Homo sapiens: one gene and its partners. The protein of the gene in region 1 interacts with the protein of each later gene in a biochemical or structural test. Each region holds a gene or a part of one and is shown in the gene's direction. Other genes may lie near its edges. The genes, in order: STRIP1, MINK1, TNIK and MAP4K4.

Region 1 (7,740 bases):
GGCCATGCCAGGAGGCCTTCCCAGGAGGAGTGACATGGGGAGGCGGTGGAGGTGAGTTGGGCCTCTGCTACACTGGGGCTCATCCTTCCTTTCAGAATGGGTCAACTCTGGAGCCAGGGCTCAGTAAGTATAGGATTTCTTAAAAGTCATTGACACATTTTATCTTGGCCACACATTCTGTTCTTCATAAAGCCTTGCTAAGGCTAGAGAGGAAAGCTGAATTGCTCAGAAACAGTAAAACTAAGCAGTCTAAAGCTGGATGTTGCTGGCGTTTCTGCTTCTTGGGAGATGTTTAGATGAAGCTTTTTTTCTTCTTCTAAAGTTGAGCAACCAACAGTATTTCTAATTTGACTTTGAAAGACTTGCATGTACAACTTGTGAAACATGAGTCTCACCAACTTTTCTAGGAACTTGCAGGGTTAGGCTCTTTGCTTCTTTTTAAATTGAAGAGTATGTCATAGGTGCAGAGTTAGTGTATCTGCACTAGGGTCAGTCAGCCTGCATCTCCACTCTTTCCTTGTTCCTTTTTCTCCTTTCCCTTGCGGATGTCACGGAATTCTCCTTGGGAGTGGCTTCAGTCCATTGTTCAGGAGTTGCCTGGGTCTCTATAAAGACATGGGTCATGATGTCATGAATGTTTCTGAGCCTGACACAATGGTCAGGGGCCAGCCTGTGGACACATTGACCCTGGCTCTGCTTCCCTGTCTGTGATGCAGTGCACGCTAGGCGGCTTTGAGGAGCTGCAGAGCATGAAGGCTGAGAAGCGCAGCATCCTGGGCCTCCCCCCGCTTCCTGAGGACAGCATCAAAGTGATTCGCAACATGAGAGCAGCCTCTCCACCAGCATCTGCTTCAGACTTGATTGAGCAGCAGCAGAAACGGGGCCGCCGAGAGCACAAGGTGAGGACGACAGAGGTCCCTGTGACTCCTGAGGGCCCTCAAGGTGCATGCTTGCAGCAGCACAGTCCTTGGAGGAGCAGGGCTGCTGGAAATGATCTCTGATCAGCCAGTCAGAATCATGCCTCCACAGCGAGGATACTTTGTCCCCAGCTCTGGTCCAGTGTATGGTGAGTGCTCAGCACGTGGTGCTTTTGAGGGACTGGAGCAAGAAGTAGTTGATGGTTTGGCCCCCGTCTTGACTCCCACTGTGGTTTTTCCACTGTTCTTGCCTCTACTGGACACCTGTATGTGCTGTGTCTCCTCTGGCTGCACTTCCCTGGTCTGCGTCCTCAGTTGGCTCTTGTCTCATCTCCCTTCCCTGGTTTCAGGCTCTGATAAAGCAGGACAACCTAGATGCCTTCAACGAGCGGGATCCCTACAAGGCTGATGACTCTCGAGAAGAGGAAGAGGAGAATGATGATGACAACAGTCTGGAGGGGGAGACGTTTCCCCTGGAACGGGATGAAGTGATGCCTCCCCCGCTACAGCACCCACAGACTGACAGGCTGACTTGCCCCAAAGGGCTCCCGTGGGCTCCCAAGGTCAGGTGAGTCTCAGACCTCCAGAGCACTCATAGTTCCTGAGGCAGAGCCCTCACACCCTCAGGCCTGCCACCTGGCCTGTGTCACCATGTGTGGTCCTCTGCAGGGCAGGCTGACCGTGGCTCTGGGATGAGGCTCTCTTAAAGCACCCTGTGCTGTCCTGAGGGTCTCAGGGAGGCCGGCCTTGCTGGTCTCACACAACATGGCCCTCATGTGGCTACTGAGGCAGTAATTGGAGTTAGCTCTTGGTTAGATGTGCTAGTGAAGGGGGATAGGAAACAAATAAAAACAAAAGCATTTAAGCAAACATGTCTCCACCCATCCTGGGGTTGTGTATGGTTTTTAACAAAAATGATAGATTAAGGAAGAGTTTCTTTAGAGCCATAATGAAAATGTTTGAGATATATGTGGGTAAATCGATGGATGGGACGGTACCTGGAGATATATAAATGGTGTCTGTTTGATAGGCAGCAGCTTAAGAAATAGATGAACATGTGAGAGGATATAGAAGTCGCTTTCTTGATCCAGGTAAAGCCTCAGTTTTCAGTGATCTGTGAAGGGAATGCAAAACAGATCATCAGAAAATGCAAGGTATGCTGATTGTTTGGGATAGGAAAAGTGAGCTATATGAAAAATCAGTAGCCTATAGCTTTAATTGTTTAAAAGTTTTAATATTTAAGAAAGTCTGTTGACAAACTTGTTCATACTATCTGAATAAAGCATGTTTTTAAGTTTGATATATCCCTTTAATTTTATGAATAAACTAGTTAACATGTATTTCCAGGTTACTGATCCAGCAAAATTATAAGAAACATTAAAATTCTCTGAAAATTTCAGTTTTTTCCCTTTTTTCAAAGAGAAAAACAATTATAGGAGACTTCTCCTGGCTTCACAGTTTCTGGATGCTGTGTTTTTGTTAACTGTAACACTTTGAAATAGCATTTGCTAAAAACCTTTTTTCTTTCTCTCTTTTTTGGTGATGTGGCAGAGAGAAAGACATTGAGATGTTCCTTGAGTCCAGCCGCAGCAAATTTATAGGTTACACTCTAGGCAGGTGAGTAAAAGCCGAGTTCATTTTGCTGTTAGCTCTCCCGGCCTTTGGTGTTTGGGATCCCAGGTGATTTGATGTCGAGGCTCAACACAGGGCCTTCTTTATTCTCCAGTGACACGAACACAGTGGTGGGGCTGCCCAGGCCAATCCACGAAAGCATCAAGACTCTGAAACAGGTGAGTGGCTTTGGGTGAGCTTTTGGCTTGTTTGGTCCTAAGTGAGTAGAGTGAAACCAGCCTGTAGGGAGAAGCCTTTTAAGACTGTTGTCTGCCTGCAAGAACCTGGGGTAGAGGCCGGGGTGGACTTTGCAATAACCTTGCAAACAGTCTTTCGTAAGTTTTGCTTGTTTTATTATAAGTTTTACTTGTTTTAGCTGAGCTTTTGTTTGGGACTGACTGGGAAGTCTTTAAAGATTATATTACCTGACCACCGGGCACCAAGGCATGCACCTGTAGTCCCAGCTACTCAAGAGGTTGATGCAGGAGGATTGTTTGAGCACAGGAGATCAAGGCTACAGTGAGCTATGATCATGGTCCTGCACTCTAGCCTGGGCCACAGAGTGAGACCCGGATTCTTTAAAAAAAAAAAAAAAAAAAAAAAGGATTATATTACTTGACAGTTGTTGAAATTCTAAAGAGCTCAATAAATAGCCCTCCTTTTCCTTGCCCACGTTCTCAGGCGGTTGAAATAGAGGAGTAGGCAGATGGAGATTGTAATGCCAACTTTATAGCTCATAGAGCCATGGAGAATGAGGCTTAAGAACACAGCAGTAGTGTCCTAATACGTTGTTCCAGAATTAGGCAGAGTTACCTACCAGTCCCAGGCAGTGTGGGGAGGCTCTGCCAAGCTTGGTGGCGGGGAGGAGAAGAGAGCAGACTCTCAGCAGGCAGACAGGTTCTAAAGAGAAAAGAGAAGGGTGAGGACAAGTCCGCCCTGTGTCCCCTCCCATACTCTCCGATCAGAGAAGGGAGGAGTGAGTGTGTGGACGGGGCAGAGAGAGATGAGGGGTGTTTCGCAAACCCCTGTCCCTCCACACGGGAGAGAACATTAAGAGTGGGGAAGAGGCATCTCCCCTAACAGCTATCTGGAGTGAAACTGTTTTTATGTTTTTGAAATATATTTTTGGAATTTGTAGTACTAAGTGGTCTCTCTGCAGCTAGGCTTTTTGAGTACTTGATTTTGCTTTCAGTTTTTCTCCTGTTGCTGTAGCTATCTGAAAGGCCATTTCCCTCCTTTAATTTACTTTTTTCTTATCTACCATGGGCTTCTTACTGTAGTTGCAAGAGGAAGGGGCCCTTTTAGAAAAATATTTTGGGGCCAGGCATGGTGGCTCACGCCTATAATCCCAGCACTTTGAGAGGCCAAGGTGGGTGGATCACCTAAGGTCAGGAGTTCAAGACCAGCCTCACCAACATGGCAAAATCCCATCTCTACTAAAAATACAAAAATTAGCCAGGTGTGGTGGTGCACACCTGTAGTCCCAGCTACTTGGGAGGCTGGAGCAGGAAAATTGCTTGAACCTGGGAGGCGGAGGTGGCAGTGAGCCAAGATCATGCCACTGCACTCCAGTCTGGGCAACAGAGGAAGACTTCATCTCAAAAAAATAAAAATAAAAAATATCTGGGGTTTGGGATTTTAGCTAGGGATTTTTGTGGTGACTTAATCCTCTTTCAGAAGACTGTGTTTGAAGACAAATGTGTGGGGATTTTGCTAGAGTGCAGGGAGTTTGGCCAGAGAATGTTTTCCCCAGCCCTTCTTTTCCCATCTCTCCCACCAGCACAAGTACACGTCGATTGCAGAGGTCCAGGCACAGATGGAGGAGGAATACCTCCGCTCCCCTCTCTCAGGGGTAAGTTGGAGGTCCTCAGTCCGGGCGCGGTGGCTCACGCCTGTAATCCCAGCACTTTGGGAGGCCGAGGAGGGCAGATCATGAGGTCAGGAGATTGAGACCATCCTGGCTAACATGGTGAAACCCCGTCTCTACTAAAAAAAAAAAAATTAGCCAGCCGTGGTGGCGGGCGCCTGTAGTCCCAGCTATTCAGGAGGCTGAGGCAGAAGAATGACGTGAACCCGGGAGGCGGAGCTTGTAGTGAGCCGAGATAGCGCCACTGCACTCCAGCCTGGGCGACAGAGCGAGACCATCTCAAAAAAAAAAGTTAGAGGTCCTCTTCAGCCCCCGGGATCCCCAGCTCTTCCCAGGCATTGTGCTGGGATTAGACCACAAGGTTGCCCCAGGCCCTGCCCTCAAAGAGCTCCCAGTCCACCTCCCAGTGCACAGGCTGAGACACGTCTAGTGCAGGGTTAAGAATACAGACTGAGTCAGGAACCTGCCTCTGATGCCTGGGTCCACCACTTTATGGATGGCAACTTAGGCAAGTTACTGGGTCTCTCTATGCTTTATTTCCTTGTCTGTGAAATAGGAATAATAATACCTTTATAGGGTTATAATAATAAGGATGAACTGAGTTATTACAAGTAAAATGCTTGGCACATTGTTTGTGTTCAGGGTTTGCTGTTATCATCATTAACATCATTATGTACATCACTGTTTACAGGTTTTCCTCCAGCCAGCTAGGAAGCTGGCTCAGGAGATTGTATTCTGGGCTGGGGTTTTATGCTTGTACTCATTATGTTAAAAGGGAGAAGAAGAAGTTGAGCAAGTCCCTGCAGAAACCCTCTACCAAGGCTTGCTCCCCAGCCTGCCTCAGTATATGGTGAGTGGTGCCTGCAGTGGGACACTCCCACTACACTGGCCTTAGAGCAGGCCCTGCCGTCCTCCTGCCACCTGCAGACCAACAGGAGGACTGCTCAGAGCTTAATTTTGACCCTGGGCTCTCAGACCTGTGTCTGAATGGTCTACTCTTCCCAGATTGCCCTCCTGAAGATCCTGTTGGCTGCAGCACCCACCTCAAAAGCCAAAACAGACTCAATCAACATCCTAGCGGACGTCTTGCCTGAGGAGATGCCGTGAGTATCATTCTGTGAATGAAGCAGGTGGGGCAGAAGATAGATGGAGAAGGGCAAACATTTTCCTCTTGTCAGGTTGGTTGTTGTTGGCCCAGCTCTACAGGTTAAATGTAGGTATTTTTGACCCAAAAAAAGGAAACTACGAGATTAAAGAGTTTCACTGGTTGGGGAGATGGCTTGGTCCTGTTGGCCTGGATTCTAGTGTAGACTCTACCACTGAGCAAACTCCTGAGTGAATTGGGGAAAGTCATTTCCTCCTCTGTAAAATGAATGGGGCCACCCTGGACATTTCCCCAAAGCCCCACTCTCCAGCTGTGATTGAGACACCCAGGATGAGGAGGGTTAGTTTGTAGACAGCTTGCCAGCAACAGCTGAACCTGTGCCAGGTATAGAGACATCCCTTTTCGCCAGTGATTGGGCACGCAGAATGCTGGCAAATGTCTCAGGGCGATAGAGTGAGATTCTTCAGAGCTCTTCTGCCCTGTGCCCTGTACTTGTCTTTCATGTGAGAGTCCAGATTGAGATCATGTTCTACTTTGAGAAGGACCTGGACCTTGACCTGATCTTCTGCCTGCCTGGGCCACCAGCCCTGAGCCCAGCTCCTGGGTGGCTGTGGCCCCGGAGTATGGCAGTGATGGCCGGCTGAGGGAGGAGGCAGGGGTTGGCTAACACCAGAGGGAGGATCACAGAACACTAGGCCATCATGTGATGGTCCTTGGAAAAAAGGTTCTAGAGTCAAATACTGTATATTTGATTCATGGATTTCTCTTATAAGGAGGAATTCCTCTTACAAAGATGTACAATGAGAAGTCCTGAATTAAGAAACCAATGTAACTCAGTGCTTCCTAAATTTATCTTACTCCAAAACCCTTTTTTTCCATGACATGAAACTTGCCAATATCCTGGTATTCCACAGAACACATTTGGAGAACTCAGGTTAATATGGCAGCAGAAGCTTAGGGGAGATCTTGGAAAGGAGAAGAAGTTCATTTTTGGAGGAAAGGCAGAGAAACAGACTGAGAATGTATTTGAGGGCATCATGGGGAAGAAATAAATTGTGCGAGGCTACATTGCTTGGGAGGTGGATGGGGGAGCCCTCGGCTGACTTCTGAGATGTCCTTGGGGTGAGTGGGGAGGTAGGAGTCTTTGCCCAGGGAGGCTCCGGAGTCCATCTTTTCTGTGGGCACCTAGAAATGAGGTACTGCGCATGCTGGTGGCTTACCCAGGCAATTATGTTTCCAGCACCACAGTGTTGCAGAGCATGAAGCTGGGGGTGGATGTAAACCGCCACAAAGAGGTCATTGTTAAGGCCATTTCTGCTGTCCTGCTGCTGCTGCTCAAGCACTTTAAGTTGAACCATGTCTACCAGGTACCCACAGGGCTTTCCCTCCTGTCCTGTGGGCTGGGGCCTCGGGCACTGCTGCTCCTCCAGCCCACAAGAACGGGGGCCTTGGCCTTTGACCCACTTGAACTCTGCATGAATGTTCTAAGACATGGCCCTTCAGCCAAGGCCTTTCATCCCTGGAGGAAAGAGGGCAAGGTCCCAAGGGCCGCGCCTTTTTTTTTTTTTTTTTTTCCTGTTGGCTTCAGTTTGAATACATGGCCCAGCACCTGGTGTTTGCCAACTGCATTCCTTTGATCCTAAAGTTCTTCAATCAAAACATCATGTCCTACATCACTGCCAAGAACAGGTGATGAGGGCCAGGGACCATGAAGGGGTGGATATGGTCAGACGGCAGAGTTCCCAGCTGGTATTTCCCACTGTGTCCATTTTTCCAGCACCTACGAGCCAGCACTGTGCTAGGCATCAAGACATAAAGATAAATGAGACATGGCCTCTGCCTGTGGAGAGCCCACTGTGTCAAATCTGAGTCTAGCTAGTCCTGCCCCAGGTGACTTGGTCTGTGCCTGGGCAGGAGGGTTTTCATCCCAGGATCTAGTACTTTCCTCCCTGTCCCTTCTGTACTTTTTTTTTTTTTTTTTGAGGAGTCCATGGGCTGCTTGCTGTCTCTAAGGGGCTCGGCCATGTGCCTTGTAATGCCCTATCTGCTGACTCTTAGCCCCTGCTGTTGGCCTGGTGCCAGCTGTGCTTGACATTACTTGCTCGTCAGTGTGATATACCACAGGGCGCCGGCCAGACCCTGTCTCCAGAAAGGTTTGGCATAAATTAGTTGCCCTGAGCTATCTCCTCCCCCGCCCCACATTGATTGCTGTGGGGGAAGCTGTGAGGGTCTCTTCCCCT
Region 2 (7,740 bases), on another chromosome or scaffold:
ATGGCTGAGGATAAAAATTACCCATGGGCTGGCAAAGCCAGTCCATCCCCATGAGGGGCCACCTTCCTCCATCCTGCTCGTCCCCAGGAAGCCTTTGGGCATTCCTCTCCAAGCCTTAGATGCTCCCACTGGGAATTTCAGAAGGATGTTGGGGGAGGAGGGCAATGGCTGGGGACACACTCAAGAAGAGGAAGTTTCTTCCCACTAGGGCTGGTGACAGGAGCATTAGCACATGTCGGCGGGCCCCTCTGTGTTTCTCTGAGTTCCCTAAAATCTCAGCTCTGTCTCTGTTCTTTCCCTATCGACAAGAATAAAAAGCTTTGTGGGTGAAGTTGATTCTGGGAGAGGCCTCCTGTCCAGAGTTGGTGAGTCAGGAAAGCACTGCAGCATTTTCTCTTGCTTAGGAGAAGAGGGTGAGGCAAAGCCCCTCCCTCCCTAGCCTCCTTCTCCTACTGCCTCCATCCTCCGTTAGGGTGGAGAAGTATCTTTCACGCCCTGCTCTAACTTTCAGACTGTAGAAAGTCCAAGCCAGAGAGGCTGGAACAGAACATAAATGTTTCTCCCTCATCTGTCTTGAGTTTTTATGGGAGGAGACCCTTCGCCTTTATTGAGCCTGTAACTTGGAAGTCCACTGTAGGTGGTTTTTCTGTTGGCCATGATGGCTCAGGAGCGCTCTCTGTCCACTCCCATGAGCAGCACATTCACTGAGGTGTGTAGCCACAATGAGGGGTACTTGCTTTTTTTCTTTTCTTTTTTTTTTTTTTTGAGACGGAGTCTTGCTCTGTCCCCCAGGTGGGAGTGCAGTGGCACAGTCTCGGCTTGCCTCCCAGGTTCAGGCAATTCTCGTGCCTCAGCCTCCTGAGTAGCTGGGATTATAGGCGCCCACCATGACACCCAGCTAATTTTTTGTATTTTTAGTGGAGATGGGGTTTCTCCATGTTGGCCAGGCTGGTCTCGAACTCCTGGTCTCAAGTGATCCGCCTGCCTCGGCCTCCCAAAGTGTTGGGATTACAGGCATGAGCCACAGCGCCCGGCTGAGGGGCACTTTGTAAGATAGAAAACAGTCGGGCCGGGCGCGGTGGCTCATGCCTGTCATCCCAGCACTTTGGGAGGCCGAGGCAGGCGGATCACGAGGTCAGGAGATCGAGACCATCCTGGCTAACACGGTGAAACCCCATCTCTACTAAAAATACAAAAAAATTAGCCGGGCGAGGTGGTGGATGCCTGTAGTCCCAGCTATCCGGGAGGCTGAGGCAGGAGAATGGCGTGAACCCGGGAGGTGGAGCAGGCAGTGAGCCGAGATCGCGCCACTGCACTCTAGTCTGGGCGACAGAGCGAGACCCTGTCTCAAAAAAAAAAGCTGTGTCTCCTAGAGTCAAGCCCTCTCTACGCTCCACCCTCTGAGCATAGACTCAGATCCCTCTGTCCCGCAGGGTCGGCATGTCAAGACGGGGCAGCTGGCTGCCATCAAGGTCATGGATGTCACGGAGGTAGGGAGTGGAGCTGGGCAGTGGGAGGGTCGGACCAGCGAGAAGGGAGTGTTGGGGGAGTCTCAGGGCTCAGCTCCTCCCATCTGCTTAGGACGAGGAGGAAGAGATCAAACAGGAGATCAACATGCTGAAAAAGTACTCTCACCACCGCAACATCGCCACCTACTACGGAGCCTTCATCAAGAAGAGCCCCCCGGGAAACGATGACCAGCTCTGGGTGAGAAACGCCCCCCTGCCCGCCTTCCCTCCCCGCAATCCCTGTCTCCGGGCTGTTCACTAGGACTCAGTATCAGTGCCCAGCATCTCTCCTTGCCAGCTACCCTCCCTCCGGTCTACCCAGCCTCCCCTGTCCCTGGACCCAGAGGGGCCTCCTGCCTCATGGATGGCCCCGCACTCCAGCCCCCATGAACTGCAGCATCTCATCCTTTGAGTGTTTTGTGGGGAGGGGTCCTGGCGTTTGCCCCAACCCTTCCCCTAACCAGTGTCTCACACTGTGCGATCGGCTCTTAATAAATAAATATAATCCTGGCAAAGGGGAGAGAGACCGTGGGGAGGCCGTCCATCCATTTTCCTGCCTTTGAGCACAGCTCCTGGGAAAGCAACAGAACCAAAATATTTGTGGGAGATAACAGGGCCCAGACCCCTCCCAGAACCCCAGATGCTACAGAGCACCCAGCCCTTCTGGGTCATCATTCAAAACAGAGCCTGCTGCAGAGCTTGGGGCCTCCCCCAAATTCCTCCTGCCTGGCCCAGAACATTCCTAAGAGTCATTCCCCTCCCTAGCCTGGGCACTGGTGCTGACATGTTCCCCCAGCCTCACCCTTTGTGGTACTGAGCCCAGTCCCTGAGGATGGAGCAGCAGGGAGTGTGGCAATGGCTGTCGGGAGTTTTGGCGCTGACGCCAGGTCTCCCCTCCCAACAGCCATTCAGAGAAGCACTTACTAAGCACTTCTGTATACTCTGTATAGATGAGCATGAGCCATGGTCCTGGCCTCCAAGGCCCTTTGGCTTTTTGGGAACACACACACTCATGCACACAAAGAAAGGGAGAAAGGTGACAGGGAGGTCTACCTGCCAGGTGTGTGTGGTGGAGATCGCGGCAGGCTAGAGGCATTAGTGGCCGGGCGCCCCCTTCTGGACCTGTTGGGCACAGGTCCTCCCCTCCTCTCACTGTGCTCTGCTCTCCAAGGAATAGGCACATGCAAATTACTTTTATTGCATATGCAAATATATGTGTCCACCCAACCTTTTCCTGCATTGGATGTGGCTTTTAGTGAAAACTTGGACAAGCATGCTGATTTCCAGGAAGACTGGTTGGAGCCATCTTCTCTGCCTGCGGGTCTCAGCTGCTCTCCCTGGGAGGTGCAGACCCAGAGCCCTCCTCATCTCCTGGCCTTGTTACTCTCTGTGCTGGAGGAGTTTCTCTCAGGGTCTTCCCAGGTTCCCTGTTGCAGCTGTCGAGGTAGACCCTATGCAATCTTTATGTCTCTAGCAGACCTAGAGAATCACTATTTCTTAGCCCCCTTTCTGCTTCTAAGTCAGGGACTGGCAAACTTCTTCTGTGAAGGGCCAGATGGTAAATATTTCAGGCTTTGCGGGTCATATTTGCTGTCCCAGCTACACGGTTCTGTTGTTGTACCACGAAAGCAGCAATAGTCAGTACGTAAACGAATGAGTGTGGCTATAACCCCAGCACCCTCACTGCGGTCACTCACGTTTCAATGTTTTACACTTTCACATGTCATTTAGGATTCCTTTTTTTGTTTTTTCCCGCAACCATTTAAAAATGTAAAACCCAGGCCAGACGCAATGGCTCAAGCCTGTAATCCCAGCACTTCGGGAGGCTGGGGCAGGAGGATCACCTGAGGTCAGGAGTTCAAGACCAGCCTGGCCAACACGGTGACACCTCGTCTCTACTGAAAATACAAAAATTAGCCGGGCGTGGTGGCATGCGCCTGTAATCCCAGCTACTTGGGAGGCTGAGGCAGGAGAATCGCTTGAACCTGGGAGGCGGAGGTTGCAGTGAGCTGAGATCGCGCCACTGCACTCCACTCTGGGCGACAGAGTAAGACCCTGTCTCAAAAAAAAAAAAAAAGTGAAAACCATTCTTGACTTGCTGACCATATAGAAGCAGGCCTTGGGCCAGCCCTGATCCAAAGCAGAAGTTCCTTTTTTTTTTTTTGAGACAGAGTCTTGCTCTGTCACTCAGGCTGGAGTGCAGCGGCGCGATCTCGGCTCACTGCAACCTCTGCCTCCCAGGTTCAAGCGATTCTCCTGTGTCAGCATCCTGAGTAGCTGGGATTACAGGTGCCCACCACCACGCCCGGCTAATTTTTTGTATTTTTAGTAGAGATGGGGTTTCACCATGTTAGCCAGGATGGTCTCGAATTCCTGACCTCATGATCCGCCCGCCTTGGCCTCCCAAAGTGCTAGGATTACAGGCATGAGCCACTGAGCCCGGCCCAAAGCAGTAGTATTTTGTTTTGGGTTTTTTGTTTGTTTGTTTTTTGAGACAGAGTCTCACTCTGTCACCCAGGCTGGAGTTCAGTGGCGCAATCTCAGCTCACTGCAAGCTCCGCCTTCCGGGTTCACGCCGTTCTCCTGCCTCAGCCTCCCAAGTAGCTGGGACTACAGGAGCCCGCCACCACGCCCGGCTACTTTTTTTTTTTTTTTTTTTTTAGTAGAGACAGGGTTTCACCGTGTTATCCAGGATGGTCTTGAACTCCTGACCTTGTGATCCACCCACCTCGGCCTCCCAAAATGCTGGGATTACAGGAGTGAGCCTCCGCGCCCAGCCATAAAGCAGTAGTTCTTAACCGCTGTAGGGTTTGGAATCCCAATGAGAATCTGATGAAAGTACTAGACCCTTCCTCAGGGAAAATGCATATACCTGCATCATTTTGTTTACAGTTTCAGGGATTCCTTGGACTCCTACTCTAAACCCAGCCCCACCCTGCCAGTTCTTTTCCATCTGTATTCCTTCTCCTCTTTTTTTTTTTTTTTTTTGAGACGGAGTCTTGCTCACCATGTTGGCCAGGCTGGTCTTGAACTCCTGACCTCAGGTGATCCGCCTGCCTCAGCCTCCCAAAGTGCTGGGATTACAGGCATGAGCCACCGCACCCAGCCTTTTTCCCTCTCTGTCTTGACTTGAGGAAATCCTGTGGCCTTTGTGAGGCTTCTGTGGCCCTTGCTCTCTAGCTCATACCAGTTCTAACCCCAAGGTCTCTTATCCTCCTCCAGGAGTCTAGCAGGGGATTGGGGCAGGGGTGGGAGGGCTTGTCTGACTGATACTTTTCCTTTCGGTACCTTCCTGGGATCCTAGCTGGTGATGGAGTTCTGTGGTGCTGGTTCAGTGACTGACCTGGTAAAGAACACAAAAGGCAACGCCCTGAAGGAGGACTGTATCGCCTATATCTGCAGGGAGATCCTCAGGGTGAGCTCAAGGCCCCTCCCCTTGTCTTCTCCTCCGCTACCCTGGCTGGAGTTTCTCCATGAGCAAAGATCCTCCCTGCGCTGGGAGGAGACATCACTGCCCTCTTTAGGGAGCAGCAGGCCTGATGCGGGTGGGATGTGGAAGCAGGGTCCACACCTTGGGAAGTCTCAGGCTGTTGGAGGAGACAAGCTCCTGTTTCCAAGCTCTGCCGCTTCTCCACCTGTAACCCTGCAACTGCTGGGAATTCACCTGGAGCCACCTCTCTGAGGAAGCTCTCCAGGACAGCTCAGCTTGCTTGGGCTCCTGGTGGAGAAGGTCTGCTCCTTCAGCCCAGCCCTGTCCAGACTGACTGCTCCTTGTCCCCTCAACTCACTCCCCACTTACTCTTTCCTACCCCATCCAACACCATGGCTAATTTTCCCTGCTCTCCTGTCCCAGGGTCTGGCCCATCTCCATGCCCACAAGGTGATCCATCGAGACATCAAGGGGCAGAATGTGCTGCTGACAGAGAATGCTGAGGTCAAGCTAGGTGCGCCGGCTCCTTCTGAGGCTGACGAGGACCTTTCACCTCCAGAACAGAGAATGAGGGGCCCCTTTTTCTCTCTGGTGGCTCAGGCCCAACTCCCTTCCTACTGGGGAGGCTCACTCCCTCCCCTTTCCCCTCTCCCCCTGGAATGCCCTGCCTCCTGCTGAAAATCCCTCAGGAAGCTCTTCACCTGTCACCTGTTACGGGCCAGGTGCTCTGCAGGTTGCTCTGGGGAGATGGGATCTGATGGCCCTCCTGCCTGGGATGCTGTCCGTGATCCTTTTACCTGGGTTTTTCTCTAAGATGCTGGAAGATGGAATCGGGTTCTTCAGGATGGTGGTGGGGTAAAGGAGGGTGCTGGGGTGTCTGGGTCGGGCCAGGACCACAGCTGGCTCAGGCAAGTCCTGTGTGTGCACGCAGGGATGTGAGGCAAGGGAGCAGAGGTGACTCCCCACACTGACCCCTCCCTCTGTGTCTTCACAGTGGATTTTGGGGTGAGTGCTCAGCTGGACCGCACCGTGGGCAGACGGAACACTTTCATTGGGACTCCCTACTGGATGGCTCCAGAGGTCATCGCCTGTGATGAGAACCCTGATGCCACCTATGATTACAGGGTATGGAGTGGAAAGTTGGGAGCATGGGGGCTGCCAAGGGCGGGAAGCAATATGGGGACCACGGGGCCTGAGCAGGCTGGGGAACAGAGGAAGGTCAGATGATGTTAGCAGTGAGGGGCTGGGGAACATCTTACGGCAAGGCAAGTGTGGGTGGGAAGATGGGATGGGTTGGAAGGCACTGCTGCAGGAATGGGTGTGGCCCAGGAAGGCTCCTGAGAGGCCAGGATGGTGGGTGAAGAGAGGTTGCAGGGCAGAGTTGTCAGGAATATTCACTTGTTCCTTCTTTCCCGTCTATAGAGTGATATTTGGTCTCTAGGAATCACAGCCATCGAGATGGCAGAGGGAGCCCCCCGTAAGTTCTGAGTCTGCCGGGAGTGGGAGGGGAGGGAAAGGAAGGGCCCAGAGAGTGGCTGTAGGGAGGAGGTGGGTCCTGGGACCCTGCCGAGGAAGGGTCCTGTAGCTCCCAGTGCAGTGAAAGGGACTGAGGGTGTCTCCTCTGTGTCCAGCTCTGTGTGACATGCACCCCATGCGAGCCCTCTTCCTCATTCCTCGGAACCCTCCGCCCAGGCTCAAGTCCAAGAAGTGGTAGGTCTCTGAGAGTGTGGGCTCTGGGAAGGAAGGTCCCTGGACAAGGCCATCCCCACCTTCATGCCCTCTGTGCTCAGGCTTGGATCTCACCAGAGAAGAGATTCTGGGGGGCAGAGGGCGGTGACTGGTGTTGGGATATGAAGACAGGAGGGACGTCAAGGTGGCTTGTGGATGAATGATCCACCCTCTTCCTCCTGCACCCATCCCTTCTGAGGGGACCCTCCCAGTGTGAGCCACCACTGTTTCCAGGTCTAAGAAGTTCATTGACTTCATTGACACATGTCTCATCAAGACTTACCTGAGCCGCCCACCCACGGAGCAGCTACTGAAGTTTCCCTTCATCCGGGACCAGCCCACGGAGCGGCAGGTCCGCATCCAGCTTAAGGACCACATTGACCGATCCCGGAAGAAGCGGGGTGAGAAAGGTCAGTGGGCAGGCTGGAGGGGGCAGGTACTAGGGGACACTCCAGCCTGGCTCCTCTCTGCCAGCCCTGCTCGCTCCTGGCACCCCTTCCTGCTCCCCTCCTTGGCCCCAGCTCTCCCTGTCCAAGGAGATCGTTCTCAAACTTGCAACCCCCAAGGGGTTTTCCCTCCTTTCCCTCCCAGTCTGAATCAGCCTTCCAAAGGAGGACCGGCCTTTCGCATCCTTACAAAAACTCCATGCTAAGCACATGTGTGTGCGAGCACAAGCACAGGCTCTGCCACACCTCAGCTGCCCTGGGACCCAGTCCCGGTCCTGTCCAGGCCCACACCTGAGACCCGCTGTCCTCCCATTGCCCCCAGGAAGTGGGTGGGGCCCCTCATGCTTGCCCAGCCAGAGAGACCTGGTTATCCCCACCCAAGGTTTCCCTAGCCCACGGCGGGTCTGGGGCGCTGGGTGAGATAACTGCAGTGGCCTCCCCCTGCAGAGGAGACAGAATATGAGTACAGCGGCAGCGAGGAGGAAGATGACAGCCATGGAGAGGAAGGAGAGCCAAGGTAGGCCTGGCAGGTGGAGTGGGGGTTGGGGCGGTCATCGCTGAGTGGGGGGACTACAGTGGTGCTTGGCTTTGGGGACTCTCAGCCTGGGGGTGGTGGGCACAGAGAGGT
Region 3 (7,740 bases), on another chromosome or scaffold:
CTGGGAGAATTTGCTGCAGACTTACCAGTCCCTCGCTGTTTCGGTGGCTCTTTAATGTACACAGTCAATGCTCTTTTTGTAAACCCTGGGCTCAAAGCATTAAAAGCAGATCCTGTCTAGAGAGGCCTTTATCCTTCTCACTTTGGGGGCTTATTGTTCTCAGCCAGTGATTCCAGACCGGACCCAGTCTAAATTTTCCCCAAATAGCAACAATGCATAATTTAAACCAGAGCAACCAATGACAGCACTGATCATTTAAATTATGCAAGATTTGCATGGTTTAAAAGTGAGTGAAGCAGGATCTTCTTTGGTTAGAAAATAGGTACTTTGAATCCAGTTTTAGCCCTGATTTTTAGAGCTCAGAGATAAACTAAATCTTGAGGGATGGGCTGGAATTGTTTTATAGATTCAGAGCTGGAAAGAGAATTGTAGAACACTCAGCCACTCCTTTCATTGAACACTTGGGAAACTGAAGCCCAGAGGCGTGAAGTAAGTTGTTCAAGGTCACACAGTAACAAGGGGAGGGGACAGCGAGGAGCGTGGTTTGAGGAAATAATCTAGATTTCCTGACTCCTCATTCAGTGCTCTTTTCTCTAAGTCACACTTTCTGTGGTGGAATCAGAAATCAATAATACATTTTCTGCCTGAGTACAAAAGAATAGCAGAAAGGAATAATTTCACCAGGGTCAGGGAATTTTATTTATTGAGAATGGCGAAACTACTTCATGCAAGTAAGCTTGTGATACATGAAACCATGGAGCTCTAGGCCACCTTTGGAATTCATCTTGTCCAGCCCTGGTTCAATGCCTACTCTGCAGGCAAACGACTGTCTGAAATCACCTAGGACACATGGTTGTCCTGCACAGGTAACCTCTCTGAGTAACCTGTGTCCATCAGAGCATGTCTCAAGGGGTCAGTATAAACATACATGTTATTCAGATGGCTCTGCATGTGAGGTTTATAGAGTTGTGTGTATGTTTTGTATTATCTATGTGGATACATATATTATGTGTAGTATTATGGATATAAACCGTATCCACGTGGGTGTATGAAAATGTGTGTATACATACATAGGCTACAGCAAACAATTTACTCATTCAAACCTGGGGCTTGAGTCATTCTTGCTTCAAGACATCTCAGTATTAAAAGAGATGAAAGTTGCCACCAGTGTGCTTTATTACATATGAGGCGAGCTCAGCCCAGAAAGCTTTTTGGAGATTAGCATATTTCTGGACCTAAGCACCTTGGCTGTCCTTAACTTGGCCCACAGGGTAAGGCATTCAAGGCCAGGAGTTGGCTGCTGCTGACCTCATACTCTCAGCTTCTGCCAGGACTCACATACACTTTTGTATTTGAACAAAATTAGATGATCTACACTTGTCTTTCCCCTTAGCCCTCATTCCCTAGCCATTCCTTTCTCCATTGAAACCCAGATTTAAGAATTGACCTCATCTGAAAGCCTTGCATACATCCCTTTGCTACACTTTTCATGCTCATGTTTTACTTGGTGTGTGATTTCCTTTCTGCTTCTTTACTAAACCGTGGACTTCTTGAGGGCAGAGGCTAGATCTTGTTCATCTTTGGAGCCATAGTCTCCATTAGTTGGATGAATGAGTACGTGAATGAATGCTTGAATGAATGGAGTGGAATGAACCCTGTCTCCCCAGTTCTATGTCCACCTCTTATTCACTCTGTGACTTTGGGTAGGACATTTAACCATAGTTAATAAGAATCATCACAACTGTTTGCCTTTCTCACATACTGGTTTCAAAATCAATAAAGTATTTAAGGCAATGCTTTAAAAACCATACAGCACTGTACAAATATGCTATCCCATGGTTAAGTAGAATTTAGTGGGAAAATTGATACCATCAACATTTGATTGCAATGATTTTATCTAATAGAAAATTATCTTTCCTGGGCACAGTGGCTCACACCTGTAATCCCAGCACTTCGGGAGGCCGAAGTGGGAGGACTGCTTGAAACCAGGAGTTTCAGATCATCATGGGCAATGTAGGGAGACTCCATCTCTAAAAAAAAAAAAAAAAAGTCAGTGTGGTGGTGTGTGCCTGTGGTCCCAGCTAATTGGGAGACTGAGGTGGGAAGATAGTTTGAGCCTGAGAAGTCGAGGCTGTGATTGTGTCACGGCACTCCAGCCTCAGTGACAGAGTGACATCTTGTTTAAGAAAAAAAAAAGAAGACTAAGAAAAGAAGGAAAATAATCTTCAGAAAAAGATATCAGAAGGTTCCGACTCTTTTTAACAGTACCTCCACAGACCTTAGCTGCCTTTTTCCTTTTGTGTACCAATGTGACCTTGTATGTTTCTTTGATGGCCTGAATTGAGCTTTGCGCCCCCAGTATTAAGCATTCATTACATATGAGGTAAGTGCAGCCCTGAAGTTTTTTGGAGATTAACATATTTCTAAACTAGTATCAACTATCAGCATTGTTCATTAAAACCTTCTTTTTTAAAAAAAGTTTTCTCTCTTTATGTATTACCGATTATTCAAATACAAACACATTGATCATGACTGTGCCTTCCTAAAGTTTTATCTTTTCCCTTGGGAGATAGAGTGGACACATAAAATGATACACTAATGGCCCAGTATTTAAAACTTTCTGGTGAGAGGTCTCATGGGGCTCAAAGAAATCTCGAAACATTATTAGTTCATTACTCCAGAGCACTTAATTAAATTTGGTCTAAAATGAGATTTTAGTAAAGTTGCATGAGTTGATAACAGTATCTCAAAATGATAACAGCATGGCAATTTTTTCATTAGATATTCTTTTTATTTTTCAGAGATACTAAACAGGTGTTTTCTTTACAATGGCATTGCCTCATAAAAAGTAGGGTGTGCTGGTATTTATCAGAACATCAGAGAAATATGCATAATCATTTTCATTATTCATTATTAACTGGAGTAATCTTTAGTACAAAAGCCAGTGTAAGTCATGGTTTGCTGTTTGCATAATTATCTACTTAGGAGGTCATGTAATATTTTGTTGATGAGAGAGTACCCAGTACATTTCTTTCAGGAAATATTCCTTTTTTCCCCCTTATCTGTAAAACTCTTTGATATCTTATAATTTCGAGTCTTGCCCGTTCGGCCTTTCTTCTTTCTGTGTCTCTGCCCTGGAATTAATCTTCCGTGCCCTTCTTGTTTCGACGCCATTCCTTCTCTCAGTGATAGTGGTTCTAAAGTCCACCCAGCCAGGCGCTCCTGTGATTGAATCATGGCCGCCATGCCCAGCTGAGCACAACCAGTCTCTGATTCCCTTCCTGATAGAATCTGGAGTAACTTGAGTCTGAAAGATGCTTTAATGTCAAATTGATTCTTACATTTCTGTGGGGGAAGTAGCTCTCTGAGAACAGGGCCTAAACTGGTTTGTTAGCAGTGTGCTGAGAATTCTAAGAAAATCTTAATGATATTTTTTGAATGAAATGTTATTCTGCACATATAAATATAAGGTCTCTAGTGGAGAGAGAGGGAGGACTTAAGTAGAAAATGTTGGATGAATTCCGCTTGTGATTCCTTCCAGTCTGGTTGGAAGCTTATTTCCCTTTAGAGAAACATGATTCTATCCACTCTTTTTTACATGTCCTGGTTGTCTCATGGGGGTGCCCTCAGTTTCTCAAAACACATTTTATATCACCCCAACTTAAAATTCTTCCCTTAATGTTTATCATATGGGTCCCCTTGTCTCCACTGTTCCCTGCAAGTGCTGTAGTTACTGTCCCCTGGGCAACACCCGCAACAGGACCTCCCCTCCTCCTGTGTCTCTACCACCAGCCTTCTTCTGACTGGTTTCTCGTACACTGTAGCCACGTGAGTCTTCCAAACGCACAGTTTCAATCTGGTTGTTTTTATTCAAGGCCTTCTCTGTCTCCTTAGTCTACAGACTGAAAACTAAACTCTTTAGCATGTTAAGACCAGCGGCAATTCAGAGGGGCCTCCCACCGAGCTCTGCAGTTTTGACGACCACTCCCCCATTGCGGCAGGGAACAATTTCATTCCCCCATGGATGCTCTGTAGGGGGCGCTCTGTCTTAGTCTCCTTTCTGTACCTACTGCCCCAACGCTGAACATTCGCAGACCACCTTTTCCACAGAAGTCTCTGATTTCTCTCAAGTTGTCCCTCCCACTCATAGACTGTCTCAGAACTGACCTCACACCTCTTTCATAACACTCAGAACTTTCTGTCTTGGATTATATTCACTACTAGACAATTCCTTTTTAGAGGCAACGTTTGATTTTCTTAGGGATCCTCACCAGTTTTCTTTACACAGCAGGCGTTCGTTCAACAAATAAATTTTGAATTAACAAAATATATACTGTGCAACCCTTTTAGAAGGGCTGGAGGTGGTGCTATGTAGAGAGAGTATAGAAACCTCAGAAAGGTGGGGCCTGTTGCTGACCATGGCACAATTTCAGGGATCATGAATTACATTATAGTCTAGGTTGCATGACTCCTGGGGACACTTTTTATGTAGAGTACAATTCCAGTGGATGCTAATTACATAGAGTACAATTCCGGGGGCACCAATTACGAGAAATACTATGCCTGGTCCTGGGTAGGTATTCCTATTTCTAGAATTTTTCTGCCAAGGAAAGTGTTCTCTCCATTGTCTTATTCTAAGTTTTGAGAGATTTAAAATACCATGGGTTAGAATTGCAAGGCGTATGTGTGTGTGTGTGTGTGTGTGTGTGTGTGTGTGTGTGTGTGTTTGGAGTGTGTTTCAATTATTTCAACAATCGGATAATACTTATGACTGCTGTTTTGATTAAACAGTAATAGATGGGCGGGAAAGGGTGTGCTTCTGGGGTGGCCCACTGGAAGACAACGTTGAGTTTTTATCTTGACAGAGCTGGCAGTGAGCGGGTAGAGAGAGTTTGGGAGATGGTGAGGTTTAATGAGGCACACAGCTGGGAGTTAGAGCCCAGCGTCATAAAGCTGGCTCTGACACCTTGCCCTCTAAGCTTCAGTTTTGTCACATGTAAGATGAGTGGTTTGGACTAGAAATTGCTGGAGGTGACTTCCAGCAATTTGTATTGCTGGGATGCATATTCCTGGAATATGTAAGGGAACTAGAGGCAGGACTGAGGGCATTTAAATAGCCATGGATTCTTATTCTATCTGTTGGAGATACCAAGAGATTGCAAACTGTGCACCTCAATGAGCTGGGAATTGCCACTGAACGTAACATCCCTTTCTAATTTTTAAATGAGCTATTTTTTTCCAGCTGTCAGATTCTGATTTATAATTTAAAGTGTTGTTCTAGTTTTTGAAGACCGAGTGATAGGACGAAGGGCTGACTGTGACTTCCGCTGGGTACTCCCTTACAGTGTTGCTGCTGGATACCCGGATTTAGACTCTGAAGTAACCCTAGATTTTAAAGTGCTGTCTCTCTAGTTAGTGAAATTAGAACCTTGGCAGTATGCATCAAGTAGGAAATTTGTAGACTTTAACAATACATTGCATATGTTACAAACATTTGTTTGATTAGTGTATTAGAAGGTGCAAGTTTGGGTGCAGGGTAAATTCAGGCCCAGTATTCTGTGATTCTGTGAAATGTGATTAACTGTAGGGGAAGAAATGCACATGGTATCCAGCATTCATTCATTTATTTGTTTGTGTATATATTCATTCAGTACCTGATTATTGGGTGCTACTAGTTGCTGGGGCTGAGCTGAAGACAACATTGGCATGGTTTCTACACCCATGGTTGGATGGAGAAGAGAGCCTGCACTTGTCTTTTACTACACTCTAGCCACACTGATTTTTTTCTGTTTTGTGAATATGCCAAGCTCATTCTTGTAGTTCTCCGTGTCAGAAATTTCACATGGAGGGCTCCATCTTATTATTTAGGTCTAAGGTGAGATGCTGCCTGTATTATTACTTATGTATCTGCATAGCAGACTACCCTCAAGCTTAGTGGCCTAAACAACAATAACCATTTATTATATCTCACAGTTTCTGTGGGCCAGGAATTCAGAAGTGGCTTACCTGGGTGGTTTTAGCATGAGGTATCTCCTGAGGTTGCAGGAAGATTTTGGCAAGGTGAGCTATCTTCTGAAGGCTTGACTGGAGCTGGAGGATCTCTTTCCAAGATGATTTACTTATGTGGTGCTGGATGTTGGCAGGAGGCCTCAGTTCCTCCCCACGTAGGTGGCTCCATTGGTTGCTTGAGCATCCTCATAACATCGTGCCCACTTTTACCAGATAGAGGAATCAAGAAAGCAGAGCAGAAGCCACTATGTCTTTTATGACCTAGCCTTGGAAATCACACACCATCATTTCTGCAATACCCTGTTGGCTACCCAAGTCAGCCCTATTCATTTCGAAGGGGACTACACAAGAATATTAACTAACACCAGAAGGCAGAAGTCACTGAGGGCCCTCTTAGAGGCTCCCTACTAAACAGAGAGGCTTTCTTTGCAATATATCTGTAAAGTAACACTCCCTTCCACCCTGAAACTGTCCAATTCAGTGCTTTATTATCTTTAAGGCAGTCGTGACTATCTGAATTTTTTAAAAATCTGGCTGTCCCAACTGGAGCCTAATAAGTTTTGTGAGAATAGGGATCTTGCCTGCATGTTCAGCACCACATTCCTGGTGCTTTGAACTGTGTCTGGCACATGATAAATGTTGATTGAATAAATATCAATTGTGTGAATGCAATTAATTCATTCATTTAAAAGGGATCTTATTTATTTATTACACCTCATACCTCCAAAAAGTAAGTTGTGGCACCTTCTGATAAAAGGCATAAATAGGATAAAGCCATAAAACCATGTTAAGGCTAAAATGAAAAGTAAAGGGGGATTGTGTTTGCATATCTTTGTCTATATATCTACTTATCTATCTGTCTGCCTAGGGCTTGGTGATTGGTGATCCAATTTACCTCTTTTGTAGGTAGAAATTTGGGGTCAGAGAAGTTACTTGTCTTGTCCAAGGATGAAATTCGAATGCAGTGCTGGGTCCCGTTATACCACGTCCCTCAACTGGATTGCCAACATCCTGGACATCTTAGTGAATCAGTCATTCCCACAACACAAAAACCAGTCTAACAAAGTATGGATACAAAGATGGTTATAAAGTTGCTTGTATGTACGGAACACACTGAAGATAGCCTGTGCTCCACTGTGAAGAAACCAAATCTAATTAGATGGTAGAGGAGAACTCAGCTAAGTTAATCAATATAGATAAGTAGCAATGCTTCAGATGTTGAAAATAAAGGTTACGATTCTATGTGCAAAGAGGCCACCTGTAGAAGCTGGAAATATGTGCTGTATCTTAACCTGAGTGGGAAGCTACGAAGACTCCTGGGGCTCCAGGGCCCAAAAAATGCAGACTGTGAAAGAAAGCAGACTAAGCCTGCTGAGTTGTTAAAAATTTGTTTAATTTTTTTTTTATGTTTGAGACGGAGTCTCACTTCATCACCCAGGCTGGAGTGCAGTGGCACCGTGTTGGCTGACTGCAACCTCCGTCTCCTGGGTTCAAGCAATTCTCTTGCCTCAGCCTCCCAAGTAGCTGGGATTACAGGTGCCCACCACTACACCTGGCTAATTTTTATACTTATAGTAGAGACGGGGTTTCACCATGTTGGCCAGGCTGGTCTCGAACTTGTGACCTCAGGTGATCCACCCTCCTTGGCCTCCCAAAAATTTTGTTTAATTTTTAAAAGGCTTTTCTGGTTCTCATTGTAAAAGCAATGGTCATTGCAATGGTTTCTGCATG
Region 4 (4,140 bases), on another chromosome or scaffold:
TCAAGGCTGTAAATAGAGTGCTGTGTGTAAAGCACTCGGCACAACGCGTTTGTGTGGGGGAGACACAGTATGTGCATAAGAATTGGTAGATGATGATGGTGATGTTTATGAAAATCCAATCATGAATAGCCGGAGGCCACTGTTGTCAACGAGTGATCCCTGTAACAGCGACGTTAGCTACACTGAGAACTTACACATGCACATTCTCAGGCCCATTGCAGACCTCCTGAAACGAGAACTCGGGAGGCAGGGCCAGGCAATTGGCACTTTGCCTGAAGCACTCACGTTTTGAGAACACCTGTCAGGTAACAGGGAACCACTGAAAGTTTTTGGACGGTGGAGGAATGCGATATAAATGACTGTTGATTCACTGGCATTAAAGTGCCTAACTACCGACTGGCTTCCGAGGTTGCCGGAAGAAACCTGTTGGTTGATCCTTAGTGATCTCCAGGTTACAAAATGCGGGTTGGTACTAAGGGCCCCAAACACAGTGCTCACCTACCGAGCGCAGCCAGGAGCGCAGCGCCAGACAATTACAGGAGCTGTTTTGGATATGGCCGGGCAGCCCAGCGATGCTCAGCGAATCCCACAACTACAACCACAACCGTACCACACATTTAGCCTGCAAAAGCAGAGAAAGGAAAAGAAAACCGTGCAGGGAAGCCGGAAACGAGGGACTTAAGGGTCTCCTCTCTAGGGTGTGGGAGAGTGGGGGATGGGGCGAATGGGGCGAGGAGGGGGCGAGGATCGAGGGAGGCCCCTCCTCCGCTCGGCAACACCGGGTTCGGGTCCCTCTAGAGCCGGGACGCGGCCGGCGGGACACACCCTTGCCCTGGGAGACGCGAGGGTCCATGGCCTCTTAGTGTCGGTCCAGCTCAGTTTCGTGTCATTTGTTGTTAGCGCGAGGTAGGGGCGTTTCCCCACCCCAGCTCCTCCCCGGGGAAATCCCAGCCCGCTTCCTCCCCGCTCCTGCAGTTTTCGGGAGCGCCGTGCGGGGTCGAGCGCGGAGGCCGCACCCTGGGCGCCGGGCGTCGTGTCGGGACCGCTGCCCGCGCTGCCCGCCGGCGCGGCCATTGTTCGAGCCCCACCCCTGATGAATATTCACGCCGCGCGGGCGCCTCGGCCCGCGCCCTACCCGGCAGGGCTCGGGGTGTGAGTGCGTTTCCGCCGGTTTTTCCTGCCTGAGGAGGAAAGGGGGAGCTGTTTTCTCTCTCCTCAGAATATATTTTTGGTGTCCCGTTTCTCCTCCTCCAGCGCCGCCGCCGCCCCCTCCCTCCCCACCTCGCTCCCCGCCTCCGCCTCCGCCTCCCGGGTTATCTTTGTCTCGCTGCCTCGCGCTCACTCGCTCAACTCGGCGCCGCCGCGGCCCCACGCTCCGGGCCCGTCCTCGAGGCGCGCGGCGCGGGGCGCGGGCGCCGGGGCCTGAGGCGGCGGGCGACGCCCGGGGGCCTGACGGCCGGCCCCGCGCCATGGTGTGAGCGCCGCCGCCCGTGCACGCTCCGTCCGCCCTCCGCGCGGCCCGGCCGGCAGAGAGCCCCGAGCGGCCCGAGAGCGCAGCCGAGCCCGCCGCCGCCGCCCGCGGCCCCGCGAGGAGAGTACCGGGCCGGCTCGGCTGCCGCGCGAGGAGCGCGGTCGGCGGCCTGGTCTGCGGCTGAGATACACAGAGCGACAGAGACATTTATTGTTATTTGTTTTTTGGTGGCAAAAAGGGAAAATGGCGAACGACTCCCCTGCAAAAAGTCTGGTGGACATCGACCTCTCCTCCCTGCGGGTGAGTGGGCCCGCGAGCGGGCGCGCGGGGAGCGGGCAGCCGGCAGCCGGCAGCCGGGGCCGCGCCCAGGTCGGCCGGGCGCTCGGGCGCCGCCGTGGGCAGAGCCGCGGGGCGCGGCGGCCCCTTTGTCTTCCTGTGCGGGCTGGTGCGGGGCGGGCGCTACCCTCTACCGCCCCCACGCCCCGAGCCCGCCGCGCGACCCCCGGGCGCTGGGGGACCGCGCGGGGCGAAGCCCACCTCTTTTGTCACCGCCTTTTCTCTCCAACTGCCTTGCTTGATTTATTCATTTTTTTGGCTTCTTTTAAATGATAACCCCTCCCCTCCTTCCTCTCCAGGATCCTGCTGGGATTTTTGAGCTGGTGGAAGTGGTTGGAAATGGCACCTATGGACAAGTCTATAAGGTCGGTGTGGGCGCCTTCTTTGTTTCCCGTGGCATGTGGAAACTTCTTATTGGGGGACGAGGAGAGGGTGATAAACATGCTGCTGACTGGAGGCCACGCCGCTTGGCCAAAGTTGGGAGAGGGGTTTCTTTCGCCTTGCAGTCCCTCTGTTTTTGCACACCGAGTTTATATTCAGACTGGCCTTAAAAGACCTCATTTCCTGGCTTTGAGATAAGGAAATAAGCTACACTCTTAGGCATGCACTTTACTTCGATAAAATGGAAAAGCATTTTTTAAAAATAAGACAACCTGAATTTTTTCTTTTTTTCCCCAAATCCGGCCTTCTGAGTTTGTGTGTAAATTGAAATACAGTGGAGGCGGGCCTTGCCTCTGACGATCCTAAACCACTGCTTTGGCCATCGTGAAAATTGTCATCATGTTTCAGCCTCCACTCAGTGCTTGCCAGTTGCTCAAGGTGGGGAGTTTGGCGTTACCTGGGAATACTTTATAACTGTGGTTGTCATCCTTTCTATTGATGGATACGTATTTTGGGGAAGCAGGGAGGAGTGTGTGTTTGGGCAACAGCAGCAGGAAGAATTACAGTGTGGGGATTATAAAATCTGAATTCCAGGAATAACCTGTTTGACAGCTGTGTAATTGAAACAGAAATGACAGAGAGCGAAGAGAATATAGAGGATGCCCTGGTTTACACCCACCCAGGTCTTTCTCTTTTTTCAAAATTTTAACACCCACCCTCCACCCCAGCGATAAATGAAACTAGCAAATCTGGAGACTGAGTCTGCGCTGAGTAGCTGACACCTGATGTGACTAACAGTGTTCATTTTATACATTGTACAGTCTAGAGATTATGAAAGATGTGTAGGGAATGGAGGCGCAGGCCTTGAAAATTCAGAACGGAATGTTAAATTTTTCCTGTCTTAATTTGTTTCTCAATACTGAACGTTTTCTAAAAGTTTAATCTGCACTGGGGGAGTGTTCTGTTAGAGTCGGTACAAGGTTAGGGAAGCAGGGCTCTGTGGTTCACCATGAAGAATTGTCATTGTCTCATTAAAAATGGGTGGAGTTGGGGGGGTTGGAAGCCGACTGTAGACCTTTTCTTAGGCTAGATTAAGTGTGGATCTTATTGTCTCTTTTCTGCGTTGTGAGTAGAGTTTATCTATCACTTGAACGCCTCTCCTTAGCCTAGACTTCTAGCCTGGGTAGTGTACTGTACTGGACTGTGGTCCGAACTTGGGTCAGTATTCTTAGGTGATCTCAAGTGTATTAGCTTGTGTTTTGTTGGTTAACTGTTCGGGCCGGGGCCAGATTTTTGAATTTGAAAGAGAGCCCCGTTAACTCAGCTTGCCCGGCTCAACTGAATTTGGAAGGCTTTGGAAAATTTTGGAAAAGATTGTGTTGCAACTCACTGAGTGGTTGGTAACTGGCTAAAAGACATTCTCCCCGGTCTGTTGTTTGTTTAAGCACCAGTCATTTTTTTTCTAACCCAGTTTTTTCTCGCCAAATTAAATGGTGATTGTAGTCTTCCAAGTGAATTAGCCAGAGCTTGTTTTTGACCTGGCTACACAGTAGTTGGATTGTTTGTGTCTTACTTGGTCAGCATGGATGTTAAGGGCAGAGAAGTAAGCTAGAAGGCGATATAGTCTTTAAACCTTAAGAGAAAGGAAAGAATGAAACCCCAGTTTGTCTTTATTGGTTTTAAGAGGTGGGAGCTGTTTATGGTAAGAGTTTAGTCAGGTTCATTGTTATTTCCCCTCATTGCCATTTTGGTTCCATTCCCCGCAACCTTCCCGAGCTTTTGAACTAGGTTTGCTGAGCGCTAGCTACGTTTGGTAGGTATTTGGGATACTGGCATGACACAGCTCTCTGACTACAAAGTCGGTACAGTTGAGAATTTCTCTAATTATGCAAACCTAGGGAATTAAATCTGTGCAAAAGTTGCCTACAGTCCAGAACAAAATAGTGCCTGAG

Evidence for each region.
Region 2: the proteins of STRIP1 (region 1) and MINK1 form a complex in vitro, tested with the Homo sapiens proteins (one study listed by BioGRID).
Region 3: the proteins of STRIP1 (region 1) and TNIK form a complex in vitro, tested with the Homo sapiens proteins (one study listed by BioGRID).
Region 4: the proteins of STRIP1 (region 1) and MAP4K4 form a complex in vitro, tested with the Homo sapiens proteins (one study listed by BioGRID).

The regions. Positions count from the first base shown.
Region 1 is NC_000001.11:110,042,372-110,050,111, forward strand, and holds part of STRIP1 (striatin-interacting protein 1), read left to right. Parts: intron 1-716; coding exon 717-899; intron 900-1,267; coding exon 1,268-1,485; intron 1,486-1,947; coding exon of another isoform or gene 1,948-1,966; exon of another isoform or gene 1,967-2,316; intron 2,317-2,468; coding exon 2,469-2,534; intron 2,535-2,643; coding exon 2,644-2,707; intron 2,708-4,308; coding exon 4,309-4,380; intron 4,381-5,170; coding exon 5,171-5,245; intron 5,246-5,400; coding exon 5,401-5,498; intron 5,499-6,740; coding exon 6,741-6,867; intron 6,868-7,088; coding exon 7,089-7,189; intron 7,190-7,740. UniProt on the Homo sapiens protein: Plays a role in the regulation of cell morphology and cytoskeletal organization. Required in the cortical actin filament dynamics and cell shape. Part of the striatin-interacting phosphatase and kinase (STRIPAK) complexes.
Region 2 is NC_000017.11:4,879,551-4,887,290, forward strand, and holds part of MINK1 (misshapen-like kinase 1), read left to right. Parts: intron 1-1,433; coding exon 1,434-1,490; intron 1,491-1,563; exon of another isoform or gene 1,564-1,581; coding exon 1,582-1,707; intron 1,708-4,812; coding exon 4,813-4,923; intron 4,924-5,361; coding exon 5,362-5,452; intron 5,453-5,932; coding exon 5,933-6,063; intron 6,064-6,360; coding exon 6,361-6,415; intron 6,416-6,569; coding exon 6,570-6,648; intron 6,649-6,900; coding exon 6,901-7,076; intron 7,077-7,559; coding exon 7,560-7,629; intron 7,630-7,740. UniProt on the Homo sapiens protein: Serine/threonine kinase which acts as a negative regulator of Ras-related Rap2-mediated signal transduction to control neuronal structure and AMPA receptor trafficking.
Region 3 is NC_000003.12:171,449,716-171,457,455, reverse strand, and holds part of TNIK (TRAF2 and NCK-interacting protein kinase), read left to right. Parts: intron 1-6,915; exon of another isoform or gene 6,916-7,740. UniProt on the Homo sapiens protein: Serine/threonine kinase that acts as an essential activator of the Wnt signaling pathway. Recruited to promoters of Wnt target genes and required to activate their expression. May act by phosphorylating TCF4/TCF7L2.
Region 4 is NC_000002.12:101,696,367-101,700,506, forward strand, and holds the start of MAP4K4 (mitogen-activated protein kinase kinase kinase kinase 4), read left to right. Parts: upstream 1-1,340; 5' UTR 1,341-1,714; coding exon 1,715-1,771; intron 1,772-1,898; exon of another isoform or gene 1,899-2,076; coding exon of another isoform or gene 2,077-2,106; coding exon 2,107-2,172; intron 2,173-4,140.